Linked DNA regions of Homo sapiens. The protein of the gene in region 4 interacts with the protein of the main gene of each other region in a pairwise test. Each region holds a gene or a part of one and is shown on either strand. Other genes may lie near its edges. The genes, in order: EVI2B, MGST3, GORAB, APOD, SLC35H1, SIGLECL1 and KCNJ6.

Region 1 (3,500 bases), on a different chromosome or scaffold from region 4:
TAGGTACTATAATTAGTAAATAGATTACTGTTAAATAACTTTTTTTAAAAAAAAGTTTCATCTATGCACATAGGCTCTGAGCAGATTTCAGATAGTTCCTGAATAAAAATCAAAATTGACTATCAGTTGCCATTTTATATATGTTAACATATAAAGAAAAAAGAGTCATTTGAGGATGGAAGATCAGCTAAAAAGCAAGTTGTAATATTTATAACAGTTCTGCAGGTGGAGGTGGCAGGGATTCATTAAGATCTTGATCAGAGTTGGGAGGAATAGAGAACTCCTGACACTGGATCTCAAGGTTGGAATCTTCTTGGTTTTTCATAAAATCTACTGGTGGCAGGGGCAAGTTAAGTGAGTCAAGCGGTGGAAATGATTGTATTATCTCAGATTTATGATCTCCACAGTCTTGATTGAGACAGTCCAGAGATGGAGGGAGACTAGTAGAATCATTTGGAAGAGGAGATACAATTGTCATTGTGGGTTTGTCAGATTGGTTACTTTCCTGTCCTTCCAAATCCAGAAGGGGAGGTGGTGGAGGCAGATCTGCATCATCTGAAGAAGAAACAGCAGTTCCAACTGTTGAACCATCAGCACTATCTTCTGATGTACCATTTACTTGATCTTTTATTTTCTCTGTTTTGGGGTTGTTGGAGTCTTCAATGTTTTCACTTGATTCAAACAACTTAATTTCTAAGTCATCTGCTAAAAGTGTGCTTTTGCTTGGTTTCCAGGGTGTAAGTGAAATGATTGATGTACGTTTTGTGGATATTTCATTTTCTCTGATGTTATCCATACAAATGTCAGGGGTTTCTCCATCAGCAAATGGAGATCTACCTGCCCAATTTTGATCATTTAAAACTGGTTTCCTTAAGCATTTCCAAAGTACAATGATGATTATAGCTACCAACATAGAAGTCAGAAGTACACCAATTAGTATGGCAGCTATTGAATTATAATTGTTTTTTTGTGGGGTTTGTTTGTTACTGGTAGTATCTAAGATAAATCCTGGTGTACTCCTAGGTGAATTTTTGACAGTTGATGTTGGTTGTGTGGATGGATTATGAACAGTTATTTGTTTTCTAGAAGGGATCTGGACAGATGATGATTGTTGAGTAAAAGTATAGACAAATGACTTTGGTGGTTGTGTGGTAGAAGTACGGGCAGATGGTAGTTGTCTGGCAGAGGTGAACACGGCTTGCTGGGAGGAGGTGTTGGCTATTGGTGTTGGTTGTTTGGTGTTGTAGGCAAGTGGTTGTCCAGCAGAAGTATGTGCTTCTGGTTTTTCAGAAGAGGTATAGACAGCTGGTGTTGGTTGTCCAGCAGTGACTTTGGCAGGTGATATTGATTGTCCAGAAAAAGTGTCGCTGAATTGTGTTGGTTGACCCAAAGGATTCCCTGTTGTGTTTTGAGAATTAGCCAATACCTGTGACATTGATGATGTGAATAAGGTAGGCTGTGACTGCTTCTCTGTTGTAATTGTCTCTGTCTTTGAAAAAAATGTATTGTTCAGGTGTCCACAAAACAAAATTAAGATGAAATATTTGGGATCCATTTCAGAATATTTCCTCGTTATCTATAGCGGGTTTATAATGAAAGAGAAAGACAGTTAGGCGTCATTGGTGTCTAGTTAAAAATTTGACTTTTCATTATGATTCCTGGCATAAAGTAGGTAGACATTATTCCTAATTAGTAGTAGTTGATTAGTAGTTATTATTCCTAATTTAGACTTGATACACTGTAGGTTTGGTGTAACAACTCTTGGATATACTCTAACCCATCATACAGCATTTGGACCTCATAAGCAGTGATCTCTCTTCTTTTATTAATACAAGTTCTGTACTTGGCTCTGCTGCCCCTCTAGCTTCATTATATTTCAGTACTTCACTTAGTCATACTTCTCAAAACGCATAGGCTCTATATGCTGGATCCATGTGTTCTCTACCTTTTTTCACCATTTTCTACTAGAAATATATTGATTCTCCTGCCTTGAAGAACACCAGTGATCATCTGTTACCTAATCTAATTGTTCTTTATTTCTTCTCTCCCCTCCCCTCCTTGACCACATTAGACACTACTGTTCCTTCACTAATATTCAAGTAGCTTTTTGTAATCAGTCTTCCTTTCATGTTACTCTCACTAGCTCTTTTTCTTCTGCCTCCTAAATATGGTTAATTGATATTCTGTCCTCACCCTTACCTACTTTTCTTTGTTCCTGATTCTGTAAGATTTTAGTTCTCAGCTTTATGCCACAATTCCTAAACCTGTACCTCCAGCCTACATCTTCTTTGTCCTAATTCTATTTGTGTGACTTCTTGGTGGATTTTTCCATATTTTATATATATAGATAGATAGACATAGATATAGATATAAATATCTCCCACTATCAGCAAATTCAACATATTTAAAATGGAGTTCATCTTTACCCTCACAACTGACAACTGACTCTTCTCCCAACTTCTCTGTATCTGTTAATGGTACCACTAAGTTTCTTAGGCACAGAGTCTATTAGTAATCTTTGAAGCATCCTTAGTGTCTCTGTAGCGTGGTAGCCTTATGTTAATATTGCATATTTTTAAAGAATTTCATTCAACTCAGAGTCTTAGGCTTAAAATCCTAGAGTGATCTCTGAATCTGGTGGAGTAAATTCAATCCAGTTGGTCAAGTAGTCCTGCTGCTGCTTTCATTCATCTATTGGTAAATGCCACATTTGTGTGGAGCTCTGTTCTAGGTTTAGGAGATTAAAAAAAAAAAAAAAAGATAGTCACTGCCTTTAAGTGTTTCAGATTCTAGTGATAGAAGCAAACAGTAAAGGCCAGGCGTAGTGGCTCATTCCTGTAATCCCAGCACTTTGGGAAGCCAAGATGGGAGGATCGTTTGAGGCCAGGAGTTCAAGAACAGCATGGACCACATAGTAAGATCCCATCTCTAAATAAAAAGAAGAAAGAAAAAAAGCTAAAAAATAATTACAATAATTTTTTTTTTTTCAAGACAGTCTTACTCTGTCACCCAGGCTGGAGTGTAGTGGCACAATCTGGGCTCACTGCAAATTCCGCTTCCCAGGTTCAACTGATTCTCCTCTCTCAGCCTCCAAGTAGCTGGGATTACAGGTACACATCACCACGCCTGGCCTATTTTTGTATTTTTAGCACAGACGGGGTTTCACCGTGTTGGCCAGGCTGCTCGAGAACTGACCTCAGGTGATCTGCCTGCCTTGGCCTCCCAAAGTGCTGGGATTACAGGTGTGAGCCACCACGCCTGGCCCAATTACAATAATTTGATAAGCTTTCTCATAAAAGTATGCAGGAGATGTACAGAGAAGTTAACCTAGCCTGGAAAGGCTTCAGTGAAGTAAAGCTTGAACTGAATTTTAAAAGTCTATAAAAACTAATTAAGTTTCCAGCCAGGGAGAGCAACAATGTGGGCACAGGAAAATAAGGCACATATGAAAGTTTGGCAGATAGGGCTTTTTCTGGGATGTGGTAGATGCTAAAACTTGG
Region 2 (3,500 bases), on a different chromosome or scaffold from region 4:
AACATGCAAACAAAAAACAGCTTCAGGGAGTGGGAACTCTTTTTTTGTTTTGAGACAAAGTTTTGCTCTTCCCCCCAGGCTAGAGTGAAGTGGCACGATCTAGGCTCACTGCAACCTCCGCCCCCTGGGTTCAAGTGATTCTCCTTCCTCAGCCTCCCGAGTAGCAGGGATTATAGGTGCCCACCATCACACCAGGCTCATTTTTGTATTTTTAGTAGAGACGGGGTTTCACCACGTAGGCCAGGCTGGTCTCGAACTCCTGACCTCAGGTGATCCACCTGCCTCAGCCTCCCAGAGTGCTAGGATTACAGGCACCTGGCCAAGAATGGGAACTCTTCTGGGGAAAACACACGGCAATGGCATAGAGACTGGGCAGGGCTGTTGCATCAGGATCCCGGCTGGGAAGGCCTCCTTTGTGTGGCATTGAATATAGTATACCTCTCTAGATGGACTATGTGCTCTTTGAGGACAGAGAGCGTGTCTCCTTGCTTATATTTTTTATAGCAACTTGCATGAAGACAGAAACTCAGTAGAATGCTGCTGTTCTATATCCTAGATCAGTGGTTCTCAAACTTTGGTGGCATTAAAATCACCTGGAGAGTTTGTTAAAACATACCTCAGTCCCAGAGTTTCTGGTTCAGTCATGTTAGGTGGGGCCTGAGTATTATCATATCTAACTAGTTCCTAGGTAATGCTGATGATGTTGGTCAAGGACCACATTTTAAGAACCACTGTTCTGAGCAAAAACAAAATTTGCAGGAGGTGGTGATTCTATCTGATTCAAAACCACAGTCACAGTCTTGTCTTGGTGGTTATATTCTACTACTATCTTTGGAGGCTCCTGAGGTGCTCCTTCTGTACCACCCCTGAAAACAGAATGGGGCTGATGAGATCAGAGACTGTTGTGAAGAGCAAGCTCCAGCTAAGCTCTTCACAATTACACACTAACAGTGTGCCCAGCAGAAGACTGACTTCTTCTTTCAGCTTTAACAGAGGTTCGAGACAACAAAGCAAGTGTGTAAGCCAGCTCAGTATCTTCAGAGTCTCTATCCTGTGACCACCATTGGGTTACCAGATCTCACTTCATGGTCATGGTCACTCACCAGATCAGATTTTCCCATAGTCAAATGAGTCAGAGTTCTAGGTTCTCCATCCTTCAAAAGTAATGCTCATTATGCTACAGAATGACCTCTCTGGGATCATCCCTTCTAATACCATGGATCAGGCATACCTCAACTTCTGAATGATTAGAAACATGACTTCAAATGAAAGGCCTATTTAATGAATCAGTAGGACTTCCAGCCAACTTCTCATGGAATTTTTCATCCCATCTGGCAGAAACAGCAAAACTGAAAATATCACTACTACATATATAATACCTAACTATAAGACCTGGTCCCATAGAGTGCTTCTTTTGTTTTGTTTTGTTTTGAGACAGGGTCTTGCTCTGTCACCAAGGCTGGAGTGTAGGGGTGCTATCTCAGCTCACTGCAGCCTCTGCCTCCCGGGTTCAAGCAATTCTCATGCCTCAACCTCCAGAGTAGCTGGGATCACAGGCACATGTCACTACACCCAGCTAATTTTTGTATTTTTAGTAGAGATGGGGTTTCGCCATGTTGGCCAGGCTGGTCTCGAACTCCTGACCTCAAGCAGTCCACCTGCCTCAGCCTCCCAAAGTGCTGGGATTACAAGCATGGGCCACCGCGCCAGGCCTAGAGTGCTTCTTTTATGGCAGGCACTGTAACAGAGTTTAGATATTTTAACACTTTCCATCCTTACAACAATCCCATATGATAGTTACTATTATTATCCCCATTCTATGGATGAGGAAATGGAGGCAAAGAGAAATTCAACAATTTGCCTAAGGTCCCACAGCTGATGAGTGCACAGCTGGTGTCTGAATACAGGCAGACTGATGCCAGTGTCCATGCTTTTTGCTACTAACACACTACTGGGTTTGTCCCTTACTCAGAAGTTAAATCACCTCTTCCCCCAGTACGGGAAGCACCGAGGGGAAAGTCCTCTGCAACGTTCAATTGAAGGCAATTGAATCCTGCTGCACCACAGGCTTCTACTCCAGGAGAGAAACAGAGCCAGGGCCCAAGAGCATAGGGGAGGGAGAGACAGATCCACGATCGTTGGAATACTTTACATAGAGGATCATACCATCTGCAAAGAGAGACAGTTTTACTTCTTCCTTTCCAATGTGGATGTCTTTTATTTATTTTTTTTTCTTGACTGATTGTCCTGGTTAGGGGCAATGCAATGTTGAATACCAGTGGCAAGTGCCGACATCCTTGCCTCTTTCCTCATCTTAGGGGGAAGCATTCAGTCTCTCTCCTTTAAATATGTTATTAGTGGCTGGTTTCCACAGATGCCCCTTTTAAGAATACTTTAGAAACCTAATTATTTCTAGAATGTGGGTTTTTTTTTTTTTTTAAGACGGAGTCTCTCTCTGTCCCACAGGCTAGAGTGAGTGGCAGAGTGCAGTGGCACGATCTTGGCTCACTGCAACCTCCACCTCCTGGGTTCAAGTGATTCTCCTGCCTCAGCCTCCTAAGTAGCTGAGATTACAGACATGCACCACCATGCCCAGCTAATTGTTGTATTTTAGTAGAGACAGGGTTTCGCCATGTTGGCCAGGCTGGTCTTGAACTCCTGACCTCAAGTGATCCACCCTCCTTGGCCTCCGAAAGTGCTGGGATTACAGGTGTGAGCCACCGTACCTGGCTGGGTTTTTGTTTTGTTTTGTTTTTGTTTTGAGACAGGGTCCCCCTCTGTCATCCGGGCTGGAGTGGAAGTGGCACAATCAGGGCTCACTGCAGGCTTGACCTCTGGACTCAAGCAATCCTTCTGCCTCAAAGTAGCTGATATTACAGGTGTGTGCCACCATGCCCAGCTAATTTTTTGTATTTTTAGTACAGACGGGGTTTCGCTATGTTGGCCAGGCTGGTCTCGAACTCCTGAGCTCAAGCAATTTGCCTCTCTCAGCCTCCCAAAGTGCTGGGATAAGAGGCATGAACCACTGCTCCTGGCCCTATAATGTTTTAAAAACACAGCAGCACTTCTATTTGTAACTTTTACATTTATCAGTGTATTACTTGCCAAACATGATTGTTTTGGAGTACATTATCAAGTTAGGGGAAGAAAACTAGGAACAGTATTTTGAAGCAAGCAGGGTATAGGACGTGGGGGGTAGCAGAAAAGCCCCGGGCCATGGTAGGTTTTCAGGGGTAGATTAGGAGACTAACATGCCCTGGTAAGCAGCAGGGCTCTGACGTCCGTGGGTGGTAGAATAGCAAAAACTTTTCAGTGTAGCCAGAGTTAGCAGACACCCAATGGGTTTTAAGTAAGCTACAACACACACATTTGCAAAGTTTCAGTTTAGGAGTGATCAGACTTGGGCTTAAGATGAGGCAGTGTTGGTCTAACTCCTAAAACACATGCTCCATTCCAGCATTTGAGTTAGCAACACAGGGGTTCATTATGACATCTGGCTA
Region 3 (4,171 bases), on a different chromosome or scaffold from region 4:
CATTTCAACTTTTCTTGACGTGTTTTATTTTGTACTTTACTCCTTTCTTTCATTTTGTTTAAAAATATCAACACACTAAAGCCAAAGTATTTTAAAATGTAAGCCAAGATGAGGTGTTTTGTTGTTCTTACTGCAAAAATAGTGAAAGAGAACCATGAAAAATAGTATAACTAGGTCTCTCTTGAATCATCCTTATCTATGTGTATTTTGACAACGCTTGCATCTTTTAATCTTTGCAACCATATTTCAAATGAGGAAATGGGATCTCAGGTTAGTGTTCAAGGCAGAACCCGAATTACGGTATTAGGATTCCAGGCAGGATCCTAAGAAATGCTTTCCCATCCCCCAGCACCGACGTTTTACAATGTCTTCTCTGAAAAACAGATTTAAAGGGGAGACTAAGAAATCCCGGCCGGGCGCAGTGGCTCACGCTTGTAATCCCAACACTTTGGAAGCCCGAGGCGGGCGGATACCCTAAGGTCAGGAGTTCGAGACCAGCCTGGCTAACATGGTGAAACCCCGTGTCTACTAAAAATACAGAAAATTAGCCGGGTGTGGTGGCCGGCGCCTGTAATCCCAGCTACTCGGGAGGCTGAGGCGGGAGAATCGCTTGAACCCGGGAGGCGGAGGTTGCAGTGAGCCGAGATCGTGCTATTGCACTCCAGCTTGTGCAACAAGAGCGAAACTATGTCTCAAAAAAAAAAAAAAAAAAAAGTAAGAAAAAAAGAAAAAGAAATCCCTTAAGAGGAAAGTTACATATTATAATTATTCACAAAGGAAACAACCCAAAGCAAAAGAAATCTGAGAGCCGCTCCGGCCTGCGAGAGACCTGGTTATGCCTGTTCCCTTTTCATCAATTATACCCCACCCCTTTTAAATGTTTCTTCATCATCAAAATCCTAAATCTGATCATTTCCTGAGTTAATCTGAAGGAGGCCTCCAGCGCTGTGCACACTCCCAGCAAAACACAAGGATTTTAGGGCACACTAAGAGCCACAGAGAGCACCGCTCCCGCCCCACAGGTACAGGACCCCAAAGGCACTTAGATCTCCCGTTTCCGCCACCGACTTGTTGCTCCTTCCCAAATACCTGTTTATCTCCACCCTTATCCCCATCGCCATTTCCCCCCTTAGCTCCTGAAGCGATTAACCAGCAACAGTGAGAAACAATGAGAGAGAGAGAGAGTAGAGGTAAGCCAGAGGAAACGAATGTCTGCGTGGCAAGGTTTCCTTAGGCAGTTTGTCAGGCACTGCTGAAGGCAGCCTGGAAGGAAGCCGGACCCTGAGGCCGGGGAGAGAGGGCCTTGTGTTTGGAGCCCGATGCACTGATTGGCCGCGGCCGGGGAAAAACCCGGATGAGCTGGGCAGCAGTGTTGGCAGTCGCGGCTGCGAGATTTGGGCACTTTTGGGGGTGCCGGTGGCCCGGGCCGATGGCGCAAGGTTGGGCAGGATTCTCTGAGGAGGAACTGAGGAGACTAAAGCAGACTAAAGGTTACAAGATGGGTTTACAGTGGTTTAATTCTTGGGTCTTAAGGGGAAGAGGCGGGGATGCAGCTTTGGCGGGGAAAGGGGGCGTGGAAGCGGCTACGTTTGTGTTAGCGGAAGGCGCTGTAAGTACGTGGACTGGATTAGGGGGTTTCAGAGGAGGACTTACTGGGAGTCACGACGGGAGGGGCAAGCCAGAGGACTGGGATCTTCTTTTAGAAAAAACGGTCCAGGAATCCACTGTAGGGATTTGACTCTTGTGAAAGGAATGGGACTTGGGAGAGGAAGTGAGCCTACAGCCGGGGTGTCTCCCTTAGGGAAGATTGCTGCAGGAATCAACGGTTGGAAGGTTAGGGTCAGGGTAAGGGAAGGAGGAGGGGCGCACACCGTATTAGAATTGTGATGAATTTATAGAAGCAGATGGTTGGAAAAAAGGAGCACAGGCGTCTGAATAAAGGCAAAAATTCGGTACTTTTCACAATTCATCTGGAGTGTTGCATTCACTTCTGGTTGCCAGATGATTTTTGCAGTACTTCCCAATTTTTGAGAATCAGCAAACCAAAAGGGTCTTTGAGAGGGTAGATGTGAAGACTTTATATGTTTATATACATACAGTCTTACTGACTTTGGAGTAAGCTAACCTTGTGCTTCTCTCTCTGGCTTTATAGAGTAATCATTGAATGGGCTTGTACAATTTTTTTGTTGTTGTGGAAGGAATTAAGTTTGCTGATTGTTGGTGGAAAACTTAGTAATATTAATTGCACTTTGCTTGTGGTTGAAATTTCGCAGTGATCTGTATGGTTATCGTGGTAGTACACACAATTTCTGTAAGAAGTGTACATCACTCTTGGTACCTTAATTCAAATACTTTATTTTGGTAGCAAATGAAGTAAACCTTTTGTTAGCGTTTGTGGGGAAATTGGATGTTGCTCTGGTAGCTTGTGCATTTTTAGCATAAATATGAGAATAATCTAGGGCAGACAAGTGGGAAAAGAAGTAAATTAGTAAGATAGGGCCAATGTAGATTATATCGACTGGGGACATTTTGACTGGTCCAGGGGACTTTAAAAACTCTATCATAAAGGTTAGGCTAAGCTATGTAGTTAACTGACTCTGTGTTGCTTGATATACTCAAATTCTTTTGCTTTGTGTTTTCAACATCCATTCACATACTTTGATATACAGGGTACAAGTGCCCTGGCCTCTGGTCTGACTCCAGTAGACTCATGAGGAGACAAACCACAAAGTTATGTGATAGTAGATATTGCAAGAACTTGCTTCAGAGACAAGAGGAACCTCACTCTGCCGGGGATTGGATGGAGCTTGGGAAGATTTCACAAAGTTTGTGTGTTAGCAGAGGCGCATTTTCCAGGGTAAAGATGACTTAATATAAAAATCTAAATTAAACAACATATTCATTATGTAGAAGTATATTTTGAAATATCTTTGCAACCGGGGGTAGATAGAGGATGGTGAGGACCTGAACTTCAAGGCCCACTGTAGTGTGGAAACCAAATCGCTAGTCCGTGACCACCTCGAGGACGGAAAATATCTTAACCTCCTTGTATACCCGTAGCTAAACACAGTGATTGGCATATAGAACTTCCAGCTCTTCCTCTAAATCTTTTCTCCTTGGATTCCTTATTTGTAAAATTAGAGGATTTGGCCCTTTAATTTTAAAGCCATTTCTAGCTGTTCTCTATCTTTAAAAATTTATTGAATAATTTAGGAAGATGGAGTTGGTTGCCAGGAAAAATAAGGACAGTAGTACTCTGGAGACCCCTGTATGGGCATTGAGGAACATAGTCAAGAAAGTTGTTAATAGTCTTGTTTATAATATTAAGAAGTTGGAAACAACCAAAGTGTCCATTAACAAGGGAATGGATAAATAAATTGTGGTATACTCATCTAGCGGGCTACTGTACAGCTGGTGGGAATATATTAGTATTAACTGTAGCCACATGCATTAAAATGTTTGTTAATACAGTATATGTAGTTACACTTGGCCCTTGAACAACACAAGTTTGAACTGTGATGGTTCACTTATACACAAATGTGCATTTAAAAAATACAGTATTTGGGGGATGCAAAACCTGAGTATATGGAGGGCCAACTTTTGGTGTATGTGGTCTTCACAGCGCCAACTGTGGGACTTGAGTATGCACAGATTTTGGTATACATGGGGATCCTGGAACCAATTATCCTCATATACCAAGGATCAGCTAGCTGTATATATAATATATACAGTCACGCACTCAATAACAGTATTTCAGTTAGCAGCGGACCACATATATGGTGATGGTCTGGTAATATTATAATACCCTGTTTTTACTATGCTTTTTCTATGTTTAGATACACAAATACCGTTGTTACAGTTGCCTACAGTCTTCAGTATAGTGACATACTGTACAGGTTTGGAGCTTAGGAGCAAAAGGCTGTACCATATAGCCTAAGTATATAGTAGGCTGTACCATCTAGGTTTGTGTAAATACACTCTCTGATGTTTGCGCAAGGACAAAATTGCCTTACAACACATTTCTTAGAATGTATCCCTTTGTTAAGTGACGTATGATTGTATATAGTGGGGAGGCGTGGGAATGTGATCAGGGAGAGGGAATTTCAGAGGTATTGGTATTTATGAAATCAGGTTAAGACAAGTTAAGCTAAAGTAACAAATAGCCCTAATA
Region 4 (2,868 bases):
TCACATCCCAGTGTGGATACTGACACGTGACCCCGCAATTTACTATAACTAGCTAGCGTTTCAACAGGTGAAACACAAGTAGGTGCACACCGGGTGTGGGCTGCAGAAGACACAACCCAGTCTTGTTTCCCAAAGGAAACTGGGGCCCGAAACATTAGCAGATATTAGCAGAACAACCTGCACGGCGCAGAAACTAGGAAGCAAGAGATGACAAGAGTGACGGCAAGTTTGAATCCTGCTTCTGCCACTTTCCAGTCACATTGTTGGGGATCCTGTGAGATACCTAATGACAGGCATTTGCCTCTGGGTTCTGAGCTAACTGAGGAAGGGACACAGGCAATAGAGAAAGCACCAAATATTAGTTTTATTTCCGACGAAGATACACTAGAGAGTTCAACCCAGAACTGTGAGGCTTTCTAACACGAAGAGTGCTTGAAAGCCCCTTTCCCACCTGCAGGGTAGACACTGAAGTCATCAGCTACAAAAGTTACTCCCTGCACTTCCTACTTCTCATCTCTGCCACTCCTCCACCCCACACCAGTCAAGTGCCTAGAGCGGGGAGGAGAGGAAGTTCTAATTTTATAGACCAAGAAAGGAATGCTGGGAGGAGAAAACAGTTCTTCTCACACTATGAATATGGACAACTAACTTCACATGTACAAGCCAGAAATAACTGCCCAGTGTCGTGAAAATAAACCAGATACACACGCTCTGTAAACTGTAAAGGGCTTTATACACAGTTTCTCTTGTTATTTTTATCAAGAAGGGAGCTAAAGTGCAGGTGGGCTGAGTGACGCAGGCCATCACTGAACTCATTAGAAGTAGAGTTGGGACCTAAACCTAGGTCTCCAAACTCTCAACTGAGTATTTTTCCCATAGGGATCAGGGACGGGGATTGGAGTGAAAGCTAACTATTACATGCATAACAAGGATTAGATGTTTGCGTTAGGCCTTGTAGGATTATGGGAGATTATGGAAAAGGATTTCCAAGTGAAGGGAACTGGAACATAGAAGAAGGCCTGAATACAGGCATATCACGAAGTCAGGAGTTCAAGACCAGCCTGGCCGACATGGTGAAACCCTGTCTCTACTAAAGATACAAAAAATTAGCTGGGCATGGTGGCGTGTGCCTGTAATCCCAGCTACTCAGGATGCTGAGGCAGGAGAATCGCTTGAACCCAGGAGGTGGAGGTTGCAGTGAGCTGAGATCGCGCCATTGCACTCCAGCCTGGGCGACAAGAGTGAAACTCCATCTCAAAAAAAAAAAAAAAAAAAAAAAAAAAAAACGAAGAAGAAGAAGGCCTGAATAAAGAGGCCTAGAGCCTGGGAGTGTACATGAAGAGGGGCATGAGGTTAGGAAGGGCCTTGAATGCCACATTAAAAGGCTTGAAGTTTCTTCCATAAACAATAGGAGACTGTCAAAGTTTTCAAATAAGGAGAGACATGTGAAGTTTTCTGTATTGTATCTGGGTAAATTTATTCTTCGGAACTGGACCACGAGAGGAAGGCAGAATGTGCCAGCCTGGGTGAGTGCAGGTGGGCCATGATGCCGCTGCTGGCAGAGGTGGGAGACAGATTTTTGCAAAATCACTCTGGGCTTAAGAGTTCTCAGTCCACCTGGGAATACACAGAGCAGCTGAAATGTGCAGATGGGTGATGACTATAACGCTGTCTCTCTCTCTCTCTCTGTCTCTCTCTCTGGGTGAGTGAGGCAGGCAGGCAGGCAGGGCACCAACAGTGCTAGAAAGGGTAAGTCAGAAACACTCAGTCTAGGCTTTCGTCCAAACTTCTTTCCAGGGTCTTTCTGTTTCTGGATTGATAAACAAAATCAGAGGTGGGGGGCTTGGTGGGTGGTTGTCTGGGCCAGCCTTCTTGTGTTGTCCTGAGATTTCTCTTGCCCTCTCCCTCCAATAATGCTGCCTCTCTCTGGTTCTCAGTTATGCCATCGGCACCGTACTGGATCCTGGCCACCGACTATGAGAACTATGCCCTCGTGTATTCCTGTACCTGCATCATCCAACTTTTTCACGTGGATTTTGCTTGGATCTTGGCAAGAAACCCTAATCTCCCTCCAGAAACAGTGGACTCTCTAAAAAATATCCTGACTTCTAATAACATTGATGTCAAGAAAATGACGGTCACAGACCAGGTGAACTGCCCCAAGCTCTCGTAACCAGGTTCTACAGGGAGGCTGCACCCACTCCATGTTACTTCTGCTTCGCTTTCCCCTACCCCCCCCCCATAAAGACAAACCAATCAACCACGACAAAGGAAGTTGACCTGAACATGTAACCATGCCCTACCCTGTTACCTTGCTAGCTGCAAAATAAACTTGTTGCTGACCTGCTGTGCTCGCAGTAGATTCCAAGTTGGATTAATTATTGTGGGTTTTTCATTATAAGCTTATGCTTAGAAATCCTTAAACAGGCTGGTTGTGGTGCCTCATGCCTGTAATCCCAGCACTTTGGGAGGCTGAGGCAGGAGGATCACCTGAGGCCGGGAGTTCAAGACCAGTCTGGGCAACATAGCAAGACCTCATCTCTACAAAAATGTTTTTAAAATTAGCTGGGTATGGTGGTGCACACCCGTGCTAGCTACTCAGGAGGTGGTGGCAGGAGGATGACTTGAGCCCAAGAATTCGAGGGTACAGTGAGCTATGATGGCACCACTGCACTCCAGCCTGGGCAACAGAGCAAGACCCTGCCTCTAAAAAGAAAAACAGAAAAAAAAATCCTTAAGCAGTTATGTTGAAAAAAACCAAGCACTGAATTGTCCTCATTTAAAGGTAACAATCCTGTTTCTGGAGTGGGGGAAGCTGATGGCAAAGGCGTATTCTGGGTGACCTGAATCCAGATGCCCCCGTTCTGG
Region 5 (3,500 bases), on a different chromosome or scaffold from region 4:
ATCGCTTGGAATGACAGACTCTTAGGTCACGAAGACAGGTGGCAGCCAAGAGACTCAATCCTAGCCTGGTGCTGTCTCCACCATTTCAACACACCTGTGAGCTACCTGCCCAGCCTTCCTCACGGCCTATGCCCAAGTGAGAGCCACTGCGGCCCACTACGTTGTATCACTTATTAAAATATTGAAATACTTCTCTAGTGGGGTAAATAGCTGCTGCTTGAGCCCCAGTTTCCCCAGCTCATCCCTTCACACCCCCCGCTCTCCTTGGTTTCCCTGGATCCAAACACTGAAGGGGAACCCTGGCACGGCAGGCTTGGAGGGCCCTGTTCCAGCCCAGCCGTGACTGGCTTCCAGTTAGACTGGTTGAAGCTTGTGCCTTCCTGTTAAACATGAAGGGCACCGTAGCCATGGCTCTGGCCACCTTCATCCCAGCACCCCGCCCCAGCAAGGCCTCCTGGTACCTTTGTCAGCCACTTGTTGTAGAAGGTGATGCCGATGGAGAAGCAGTAGTAGAGAAGCACCAGCCCCAGGGTCAACACCGCCTTCCACAAAAAGGCCACATCGAGGGCCCACCTCCCCATTCGTGGCGGCTGCAGCACCGGAGCTCCTGAGTCAGCGGGGGCAGGCACCCCTCTTGAATACAATGTGCAGGAAGAGCCGGTGGAGTTAGACCACAGCTTTCACCAAGAACGTCTCCAGGCTGGAGGAGCTCTCTGCAGCTCCATGATTCGGAACCATCAGCAGAGCCCCAGGCAGAGTCCTCACCTAAGGGGCTGGTGGCTGGTGCTGACCCTTCCCATGGTTAATTGGATGCAGCGCTCACAGGTCCCAAGGTCTGCTGCTGGGGAAAAAGGGCCGCTCTGGAGCCTCAGGCAGAGACTGTGCTTCTCGTAGCCATGGGTGCCTCTGAAGGCTGCGTGACTCAGGGCTCTGGAGGGGCTGCCCACAACGGCACAGGCAGTCCCAGAGACCCACGTCGTGTCTGCTGTCTTGTCACCTCAAGCTATTCTCCATGAACTGCCACCAAAGTGACCTTTTAAAACACAAACTGATCATGTCAGGCCACTGCTTAAAACCCTTCAGCAGCTTCCAGTGCTTTTCTGATAAAGACCAGCACCCTTCTTTCGGCTCCCATGGCCTCATCTGGCCCTGCTGGTCTTCCCAGTCTCAGCCACAGGCTCTCCAGGACCTGGCCCCACTGGGCGCCTTTCAGCTCCCCAAACACACCAGCTTTCTTCCCGTTGTCTGAAGGAAATGAACGAACACTGCACCCACCCTTCAGTCCTTCATCAATCCTACCTATCTTCAGCTCAGAGGTCACTTCTTCAGGGAACCCCACCCCATCCCCTGAATCAGTCCCCTGAGATACATGTTGCTTTCACGGCTCTCCTACTTCTCTTTCATAGCACTTGTGCAGGGTGTGATTTGAGTAATGTCTGTCCCCTGAGAGGCTACGAGCGGCACAAAGATAGGGACCAGTAAGACCACACTGGCCTTACGCACAGCTGGTGTACTTTAAGTTCTCCGTCTGGTTTGATGACTGACAGAGAGCAGGCATGCGATTTTCAGGGGACTGGTCTGGTCTTTAGGGGTTAAAAATGGAGAAGGAAACCAACACTCTAACGGCTGGAACACTGTAAGACCAGGCTGTAACCACTACTCCCTGGAAGCAGAGCCTGCCTTACGGTATTGCCAAATGAAACCACTCCCAGCCTCCCTGTCAATCCAGCCAACCCTGATGAGTGCCCGGAGCATGCCGGGTAGACCTGTCTGTGCCTGGAGGAGCCTCAGGTCCAGTGTTATGTGATGATACCTGCTGCTTCATCTGGGTGCCCCCCTCAACCACAGATCCTCCTTTGAGACATTCCCATCCTATTGAAACGCCACCTTCTTCTCGAAGCCTTCCTAGGCTTCACGATCAGACACATTCTCCATCTCCCACCCCAACATTTCTGAAGGGAGCAGTTACATTCCATTCTGCACTCTGGAACTCTTGTTACTATTTCCCCTCCCCGGGGCAAACAGGGAGCTGGCTGTGTCCAAATGAATCTCTGGGGCTACAGTTGTCTTCAGAGGAGCTTTGGAAACCTGTGGCGGTATTTTGGGGATATGCTCCTGGCGTTCAGTAAGCAGGGATAAAGAAGGGGCAGTCCACATAGCCAATTACTGCTCTGCATCCCGCACGACTTTGACATCCATATAGGTGAAAGATTAGCTTATAATTATCTGAACCTAGAATGTAACTCTGTTTACATGTAAACACAGTGCAGTGTTTCCATGGTTCTGCTGTGAACTAACACTTCCAAGAATAAGACGCCTATGTACAATGAAGGGAGACTGAAAATGGTCAAAATTGGTCTCAAAATGGCACCAAAAGTGTCCATTCTGGAAAAACCACATCATCTACAGCAATGGCACTAGTGGTTTTCGAGGTGCGACACAACACGGCTGTGTCAGTCTGTGTCTGTGGCCATCACACTCCTAGAGGGTCCACACAGAAGGGACAGCTTCACTGCAACTTCCAGCACTATTGTGCCCAGAAACTTACATATTGAAACATATTTTGTTTTACTATCAATTACTTTCCTTTTATGTTATAGGGCATGGTTATTTATATTTTATTTTATTTTTTTTTTGAGACGAAGTTTCGCTCCTGTTGCCCAGGCTGGAGTGCAATGGTATAATCTCGGCTCACCACAAGCTCCGCCTCCCAGGTTCAAGCGATTCTCCTGCCTCAGGCTCCCTAGTAGCTGGGACTGATTACAGGCATGCACCACCACACCCGGCTAATTTTTTATATTTTTAGTAGAGATGGGGTTTCTCCATGTTGGTCAGGCTGGTCTTGAACTCCCAACCTCAGGTGATCCGCCCGCCTTGCCTCCCAAAGTGCTGGGATTACAGGCGTGAGCCACCGCGCCCGGCTGCATTTGTTGATTTTTAAAAAATTATGTGTAGGCAGTTTTTATTAATCATATGTTTCATTTTAGGGTAATAAAAGGGACTGTTACAAAATATTTGTAATAAAAAAGAGGTGTCAGATCCAATGAGTTGAGACTCCTACCTGACCTAATGCATTCTCATTCCTTCAAATGCCTTCTGTAAGCTGATGTCTTCCCAATATATGCCCCGGCTCTGATTCATGTGAACTCCAGAAGAATATCCAATGCCTACCTAACCTCTTCTTCCCTTAGATATCTAATATCAGGCATCTCACTCACATCTAGAGTGTCTGAAACTGACTCGTGTTTTCCACACCCCCATTTCATCCAAGCCTGCTCCTCTTCCTACTTCCCATCCCAGCAAATGGCTCCACTACTCTCCTAGTTGCTCAGGCCAAAAGCCTTAGGCTCATCTGATTCCTCTCTTCCCCTTAGCCCACATTCAATCAATAAATACCGTCAGCTCTATCTTCAGAAATATCCCAAATATGAGCACATGTCCTGAACTCCACCACTACCATCTCAGCCACCATCCTCTCCCCAAATGACTGCAGGAGTCTC
Region 6 (3,500 bases), on a different chromosome or scaffold from region 4:
TTGAGGTTACTGGAAGAAAGGGGTAATTTTCCCCTAACCAGTAGCTCCTGATCTCGGTCTCTTCACCTGAGTCACTTGCGGGGCGCTGTTGAGGAATCTGCGGGGGACTCTCATGTACGGACCCCTCTATGGCTGTCCTCTGAATTGTCTTTTCCACCTGGCAAAGTGTGCCCACAGAAACACTGAAAAACTTAACTTCAGGGCTTCCAGTAATGTCTGAAACAGCTCCTAGTGCTCTCATGCCTTCATAGCACCTACACTCTCCATCCCTCTCCCTTGCCCAATTTGCTATTTGCTTCAGACACACCAGCCCTGTCAAAATCTGACACACAGAAGCTGTCTAATTCATGTTGATTATTTGGTACTTATGCCCATATGTCCTCTTTCTCCATGCCTCCATAGCCCATCCTCTGCCCTGCCAACACCCAGGCCCTGGAGTCTTGGCTTCCAAACACACCTCCAGTGCTGCTTCTCACCTTACTTACCCAGCTGTAGCAGTGGAAGCATCACTTCCAGCAGCAACAGTTCTCAGGAACAGCAGAAGCTCTTTACTACACTGGCTCTGACATCAGAACCATATGGTTCAGAAGGAGTGAGGTGATGCGTAACTGAAAGAGGATGTGGGGATGGGGAGAGCAGAAGTATCTTTAGCCAAGTCAGGGGCTTCTGTCTCTGGTCATCGTGAAGGCCTGTTCACCTGGAGAAGCAGGAATTATATGGGATGAGAGGCTCATGAGCACGTACGGACAGGGAGGCAACTAAGATTGTCTGTGAAGCCTCAGTGTCATGTCTGCTTTATTCTTTGTTTTATTTTTGTTTTTTGAGATGGAATCTTACTCTGTCGCCCAGGCTGGAGTGCAGTGGCTCGATCTCGGCTCACTGCAATCTCCATCTCCCATGTTCAAGCGACTCTTCTGCCTTAGCCTCCCGAGTAGCTGGAATTACAGGTATTCACCACCATGGCCAAATAATTTTTGTAGTTTTAGTAGAGATGAGGTTTCACCATGTTGGCCAGGCTGGTCTCAAACACCTGACCCGCCTTGGCCTCCCAAACAGCTGAGATTACAGGCATAAGCCACTATGCCCGGTTTGTTTTTGTTTTTGAGACAGGGTCTTTCTCTCTCTCTGTCACCCAGTCTGGATTGCAGTGGTGTGATCACTTAAGATAGCAAAGTGTTGACATTCTCTCAGGAAAAATATGATAATGTTTAGTTTGGTGAGAAGTGTAAAACAACATCTCCCTACCACAGTATAATTGTTTTGCCATAAAATTTGAAATGAATGGTGTAAGTAACATTGTATAGCATGGCACAATGTTCCCTTTTATATCCCATGTAGACATTTATTTAATAAATTTGTTCTCAGTAAATTTCTATTAAAAAAGAGACAGCACGAGACCCTGTCTCAAAAAAATGATCAATTCCAATTCCTACTGGATATCATGACTTAAAAATCCATAGTAATTCCAGCGTGGGCAACATGGTAAAACCCCGTTTCTACAAAAAATACAAAAATTATCTGGGTGTGGTGGTACGCACCTGTAGTCCCAGCTACTTGAAAGGTTAAGGTGGGAGGATCACCTGAGGTAGGGAGGTCAAGGCTGCAGTCAGCCGTGATCACGCCACTGCACTGTAGCTTTGGGCTACAGAGTAAGACTTTATCTCAAAATAAATAAGTAAATAAATAAAATACATACATACATACATAGTAATTCATAGAGTATGGTATTGACACAAGGATAAATAAAAATACCAATGGGACAGGCTATATGGTTAGAAAAATACCTATACATATGTGATCACTTGGTTTAGGATAAATATGGCACTGCATAGAAGTTAAAGGACTCTCTTTTGAATAAATTGTGTCAGAATAACTGGACAGCCATACAGCAAAAGGAAATAAGACCCCTACCTCATGTCATACATAAAAATAACTTCTAGGGACATTGGGAAAGTCCTTAGACTTTTTTTCTAGAACAGTGCTGTGTGAAGAAATATAATGTGACCTATAAATGTGGACTACATGTATAATTTTAAATTTTCTAGCAGCCACATTAAAAAGGAAGAAATGGGTAAAATTAATTTTAATGATGTTTCATTTAACCTAGTGAAAGAAACCTAGGTTATTCACTAGGTTATTCATATTGAACCTAACCCAATATTTCAACATGCAATCAACACAAAATTGTTAAGATTTGGTACATTCTTTATACACTCTTCAAAATCTTGTATATATTTTACACTTACAGCACACTTCAATTCAGACTAGCCATAATATAAGGGCTCAATAGCCATATGTAGTTAGTAGCTACCACATTGGTCAGTGGAATTCTTTAATACAACATAGGAGAGTATCTTGGTAAGTTTTAGGTAAGGAAATATTTCTTTAAAAGGGCCAAAAAGCACTAGCTATGAGGAAATATGGATAAAATGGACTGTATCAGAATTAATTTCTGCATCAAAAGATACCATTAAGGAGGACAAATGCAAGTTGCAGGGCTGGAGAACATACTTGCAACACATACAACGTGCTTGCATCCAGAACATAGCAAGGATAAAGGGGGTAATGAATGGTGTAGTACATGAGTGGAGTGTTTGGGGTGTTGTTAATGTTCTATTTCTTGACCTCAGTGGTGGTTACACTGGTCTGCTCCCTTTGTGATAATTTGAGTTGTATACTTACTATCTGTATTAATACTTCTCTGTATAAAATTGTACTTTGATTTAAAAGCTTGTTTGAAAATAAAGACAGAGAAACAAACAGAAGGGATACAAAAGAGAATAGAACGGTTGGGACAAGTAGAAATCATGTACCTAGATGTTAGATTTAAACTCCAATACATCAGTGATTTAACTAAATATAAATGGCTTAAATTATCCAGTTATGAATCTAAGATCATCATATTGGAAAAAAGAAGCAAAGCCAAACTCCATGCTGTTTACAAAAGACACAACCAAAGCATAAGTGTAAAGGACAGTTAAAAAACCAAATGGGCCGGGAGCGGTGGCTCATGCCTGTAATCCCAGCACTTTGGGAGGCCGAGACGGGCGGATCACGAGGTCAGGAGATCCAGACCATCCTGGCTAACACGGTGAAACCCCGTCTCTACTAAAAATACAAAAAATTAGCTGGGTGTGGTGGCGGGCCCCTGTAATCCCAGCTACTCAGGAGGCCGAGGCAGGAGAATGGCATGAACCTGGGAGGCAGAGCTTGCAGTGAGCCGAGATCATGCCACTGCACTCCAGCCTGGGCGACAGAGCAAGACTCCGTCTCAAAAAAAGAAAAAAAGAAAAAACCAAAGAATGAAAACATACACCAAGCAAATACCAACCAGAAAGCCAGGTAATGTAGACATACCTACATTAACATCCCATAAAGCAGACTTTAAGCAAAAGGCATTACCAAAGATAGAATGGCATATCTCCTAATGATAAGCTGACATTAACAGGAATAAAGTATATATTTAAAATTTGTGTTTGCCTACTAACATAGTCCAAAAA
Region 7 (3,500 bases), on a different chromosome or scaffold from region 4:
TTATCTTTAAGAAAAGGGAAAAGTGGCCAGGAGCAGTGGCTCACGCCTGTAATCCCAACACTTTGGGAGGCTGAGGCAGGCGGATTGCCTGAGCTCAGGAGTTCATAAACAGCCTGGGCAACACGATGAAACTCCGTCTCTACTAAAATACAAAAAAAAATTAGTCGGACATGGCGGTGTGCACCTGTAGTCCCAGCTGCTCAGAAGTCTGAGACAGGAGAATTGCTTGAATCCTGAAGGTGGAGGTCGCAGTGAGCCGAGATCGCACCACTGCACTCCAGCCTGGGCGACACAGCGAGACTCCATCTCAAAGAAAAAAAAAAAAAAGAAGGGGGAAAAGCTTTTAAAGTAGTTATGATTGCACAGTCTGAGCAACTATGACCACTGGGCCTAAGTAAAGTGCAAATTCAGGTGGGTGACCCTTCCAACTGCATCTGGAGCCACAGTCATGGCCTGTGTGTTAATGGCAGGTGGGAGGGTAACACTGATCTGTGGCCTCTAGCTTAAAAGCAGCCTAAGTGTAGTTCCATATATGAAATTTCATTCTAAGTCTGTGGCCAAAGAGCTCAAATCCCATTAGAACCCAGGCTAAACCTCCAAGAGCAGTAGGAGGCCAGAGTCATGGCTTCAGGGTTCTCCCAGAGCAGAGTGGACCAGACATAGCCATGCACATGCGAAAACTTGTGTGCATTTGCACACTTGATTTCCTTTGCATGTGCATGGCCATGCAGGCAAATGTGGCTTGATGTGGGCCAGGACTCTCTCATTGTTCCCCAGGACTCCCTTAAGAGGCCTGGAATCTCCATGGCACATTAGCATGTGTCTACAACATGAATGACACCTACTAAGTGTGGCATCGTATGCAGGTCAGTCTCAACAGCTGCATGCAGTACTCCTCCTGGCTCTCTGTGACTCCTTGGCCATGGAAAGCCCACACTTACATATGCTAAAGCCTCCATTCTTCTCTCTGCAGGGATGACATGCCAAGCTCGAAGCTCCTACATCACCAGTGAGATCCTGTGGGGTTACCGGTTCACACCTGTCCTGACCCTGGAGGACGGGTTCTACGAAGTTGACTACAACAGCTTCCATGAGACCTATGAGACCAGCACCCCATCCCTTAGTGCCAAAGAGCTGGCCGAGTTAGCCAGCAGGGCAGAGCTGCCCCTGAGTTGGTCTGTATCCAGCAAACTCAACCAACATGCAGAACTGGAGACTGAAGAGGAAGAAAAGAACCTCGAAGAGCAAACAGAAAGAAATGGTGATGTGGCAAACCTGGAGAATGAATCCAAAGTTTAGTGCCCTAGCTGGGCAAACCCTTCTCTTCTCCCCCCAACACAATCTTTCCTTGTCTCTCATTCTCTTTCTTTTTCTGTCTCTCTTGCTTTGTTCTTTATTTGTTTATATTTAATTTTTACATGACCAGAAAACAAATCTTCAAGGTGTAAAATATCTACCTGCCCTCTCTCAGTTATTCAGATTGACAAGGTAGACATGGATTTGATGAAAGTGCAAAGTGCCCTCATTTGTGGCCCAAGCCTGGTCTCCTCCCAAAATACTACACATCCAACTCCTGGAGATTTCAGTTACTTACCTGCATGTGTTGTACAATACCAGATCACTCAAAAAGGTGTGTCAAAGATTTTACCTGGGATATGACAAGCAAGGTTTCTGGTGCCTATTTATTCATTCAGTGAGACACAGAGTGGAGCCCTCAGTTTTATGGATCCCAATTCATTTCATCTACTACAGGGTGAGGTGCTTGCCCCCATGTGGGTGTGGCAGTTACAGGGCCCAGGTGAGCTGAAGACAAACCACTGTACATATATATGCCTTATGTAATTATTTTCTTTTTGTAATTAGTAATAAAACCCAGCATGTACAAAAGTACCATAGAACAGAACTGCTAAATACTGTACATAGATGTATCATTAATGTAGGTTTAGATATATAACTTTAGAAATAAGAAGCAAAAAAAAAAAGAAAGAAAGAAAGATTCCTAACATGCAGTAGGCATTTCTGTTTTGATGTCTGTGTTTTCCAGGTTATTTTGATCCAGTTGACGGCTGGCCCTTCAGTGCATGGCCTTTGTTTGTGTCTCAGACTGGCAGACGTTAGGGTACCTCACTGTTCCCACACGGATCCTTTCATTGAATCCAACAAGCCATAGGTCTGGGGGAAATTGAGAGGTCTGGTAGATGGCAAAACCCACCACCAATATGCTGATATACTGTGAAATGTTACAAAACAGATGTCTTTTTTTAAAAGATAACAAGGGCCTCACTAACTGGCCTGGAGGAGGGGGAATACCAGGAAGGAAATATTCTCTAGCCTGTCACCAAAGGTATGTTTTTACTTTTCACATGAGCTCTTGCCCTTTGTAGTACAATAATTTAGGAAACTTTTCTGCAAAACCATTGATTCTCCAGCTGTAGTTTCTCTACACTCTTACAATGAGACATGGTAAGTTAGCAGAAGATGGTTTGGGTCTAAAGCCGTGAAATTCACAAAGGCATGTAGTGAGTGGCATGCATTATAATCATCGACCTCTCACTTTGACTCTATCTGGCTTTCTGAGAATGACATCTCGCCTGTCCCTGGGGCTTATCCATCAGCATTTCTTGCATTGTGATCTTTTATTATTTTGAAATGACCAGAGTTCAGTATTCAAAGATTAGATCAACAATCTTGATGATTGTCTAAGAAATGTCTCTAGAGTATGCCACAGGCTAGAAATCAAATCCAGTGTCTGTCAATCAAAAGAAAACAAATAAAAAAATTCCAGCCTTAATTCACTTTAATCTGCAAAAAGGAAAGAAGGGAGGAAGGGAGGGAGGAAGGAAGGAAGGAAGGAAGGGTATTTGTACTGGAAATCTGAATTTTAAAATGAAAAAAATAAGGAAACAAATCTTAGATCAAACCTCCGGGGCAGGTGGAGATTTTGCACTGTTACAGATCTTTCACATTCACTTTGCATTTATAAGCTGTTTGTTCTTTAACACAGTTGCCCATCATAAATATTCATTGAATGGATCCAAGTTTATTTTCAGCTCCTACAGCTGTGCTCAGTTTGAGGCTCTGCACCATGGAGGTCAAAGAGATCAAACTAGCTGTCCCTCTTTGTTTCCCTTGCCTTCCCTGACCTGATCGCACAGGCCTTTGGTGTAGTCTGGGGACCTTGTCTACTAAAAAAGAAGTCCCAGGATAAGGAAAGTGGCTCCTAAATATAACCTCGGGGCCTCTCTTCTCCCATCTCAGAGACCTTGGATCAGGACAACTGCCTCTTGGCACTGACTTTAAGGAAAACAAAACTGTTGGCTATAGCCCTTTCCTGTTTGCCAGCATTTCCTTTTTTGCATTGAATCTCTGTTGAATCATTTCTTTATTTCGCACACTCTAAGAAGGAGGTGGTGGTCCGGGAGGAGGAAGCTCGATACACTCCCCTTGAGGCTGCGGGGAGGAGCCATGGCTTGACCTCTCTGCAGCCTAATGAAGGGCAC

The links.
Region 1: the proteins of APOD (region 4) and EVI2B interact in binary tests that used the Homo sapiens proteins (3 or more experiments, as listed by UniProt).
Region 2: the proteins of APOD (region 4) and MGST3 interact in binary tests that used the Homo sapiens proteins (3 or more experiments, as listed by UniProt).
Region 3: the proteins of APOD (region 4) and GORAB interact in binary tests that used the Homo sapiens proteins (3 or more experiments, as listed by UniProt).
Region 5: the proteins of APOD (region 4) and SLC35H1 interact in binary tests that used the Homo sapiens proteins (3 or more experiments, as listed by UniProt).
Region 6: the proteins of APOD (region 4) and SIGLECL1 interact in binary tests that used the Homo sapiens proteins (3 or more experiments, as listed by UniProt).
Region 7: the proteins of APOD (region 4) and KCNJ6 interact in binary tests that used the Homo sapiens proteins (3 or more experiments, as listed by UniProt).

The regions. Positions count from the first base shown.
Region 1 is NC_000017.11:31,304,055-31,307,554, forward strand, and holds part of EVI2B (protein EVI2B precursor), read right to left. Parts: intron 1,577-3,500; 5' UTR 1,556-1,576; coding exon 209-1,555; 3' UTR 1-208. UniProt on the Homo sapiens protein: Required for granulocyte differentiation and functionality of hematopoietic progenitor cells through the control of cell cycle progression and survival of hematopoietic progenitor cells.
Region 2 is NC_000001.11:165,637,734-165,641,233, reverse strand, and holds part of MGST3 (glutathione S-transferase 3, mitochondrial), read right to left. Parts: intron 1-3,500. UniProt on the Homo sapiens protein: Displays both glutathione S-transferase and glutathione peroxidase activities toward oxyeicosanoids, as part of cellular detoxification as well as synthesis of bioactive metabolites.
Region 3 is NC_000001.11:170,530,795-170,534,965, forward strand, and holds the start of GORAB (RAB6-interacting golgin), read left to right. Parts: upstream 1-1,371; 5' UTR 1,372-1,429; coding exon 1,430-1,490; intron 1,491-1,653; exon of another isoform or gene 1,654-1,815; intron 1,816-2,669; exon of another isoform or gene 2,670-2,857; intron 2,858-4,171.
Region 4 is NC_000003.12:195,568,205-195,571,072, reverse strand, and holds the end of APOD (apolipoprotein D precursor), read left to right. Parts: intron 1-1,937; coding exon 1,938-2,173; 3' UTR 2,174-2,368; downstream 2,369-2,868. UniProt on the Homo sapiens protein: APOD occurs in the macromolecular complex with lecithin-cholesterol acyltransferase. It is probably involved in the transport and binding of bilin. Appears to be able to transport a variety of ligands in a number of different contexts.
Region 5 is NC_000020.11:46,357,926-46,361,425, forward strand, and holds part of SLC35H1 (solute carrier family 35 member C2), read right to left. Parts: intron 1,034-3,500; exon of another isoform or gene 839-1,033; 5' UTR 801-838; coding exon of another isoform or gene 766-800; 5' UTR 634-765; coding exon of another isoform or gene 582-633; coding exon 462-581; intron 1-461.
Region 6 is NC_000019.10:51,261,080-51,264,579, reverse strand, and holds part of SIGLECL1 (SIGLEC family-like protein 1), read right to left. Parts: intron 698-3,500; 5' UTR 508-697; coding exon 486-507; exon of another isoform or gene 403-485; intron 1-402.
Region 7 is NC_000021.9:37,622,958-37,626,457, reverse strand, and holds part of KCNJ6 (G protein-activated inward rectifier potassium channel 2), read left to right. Parts: intron 1-973; coding exon 974-1,299; 3' UTR 1,300-3,500. UniProt on the Homo sapiens protein: Inward rectifier potassium channels are characterized by a greater tendency to allow potassium to flow into the cell rather than out of it.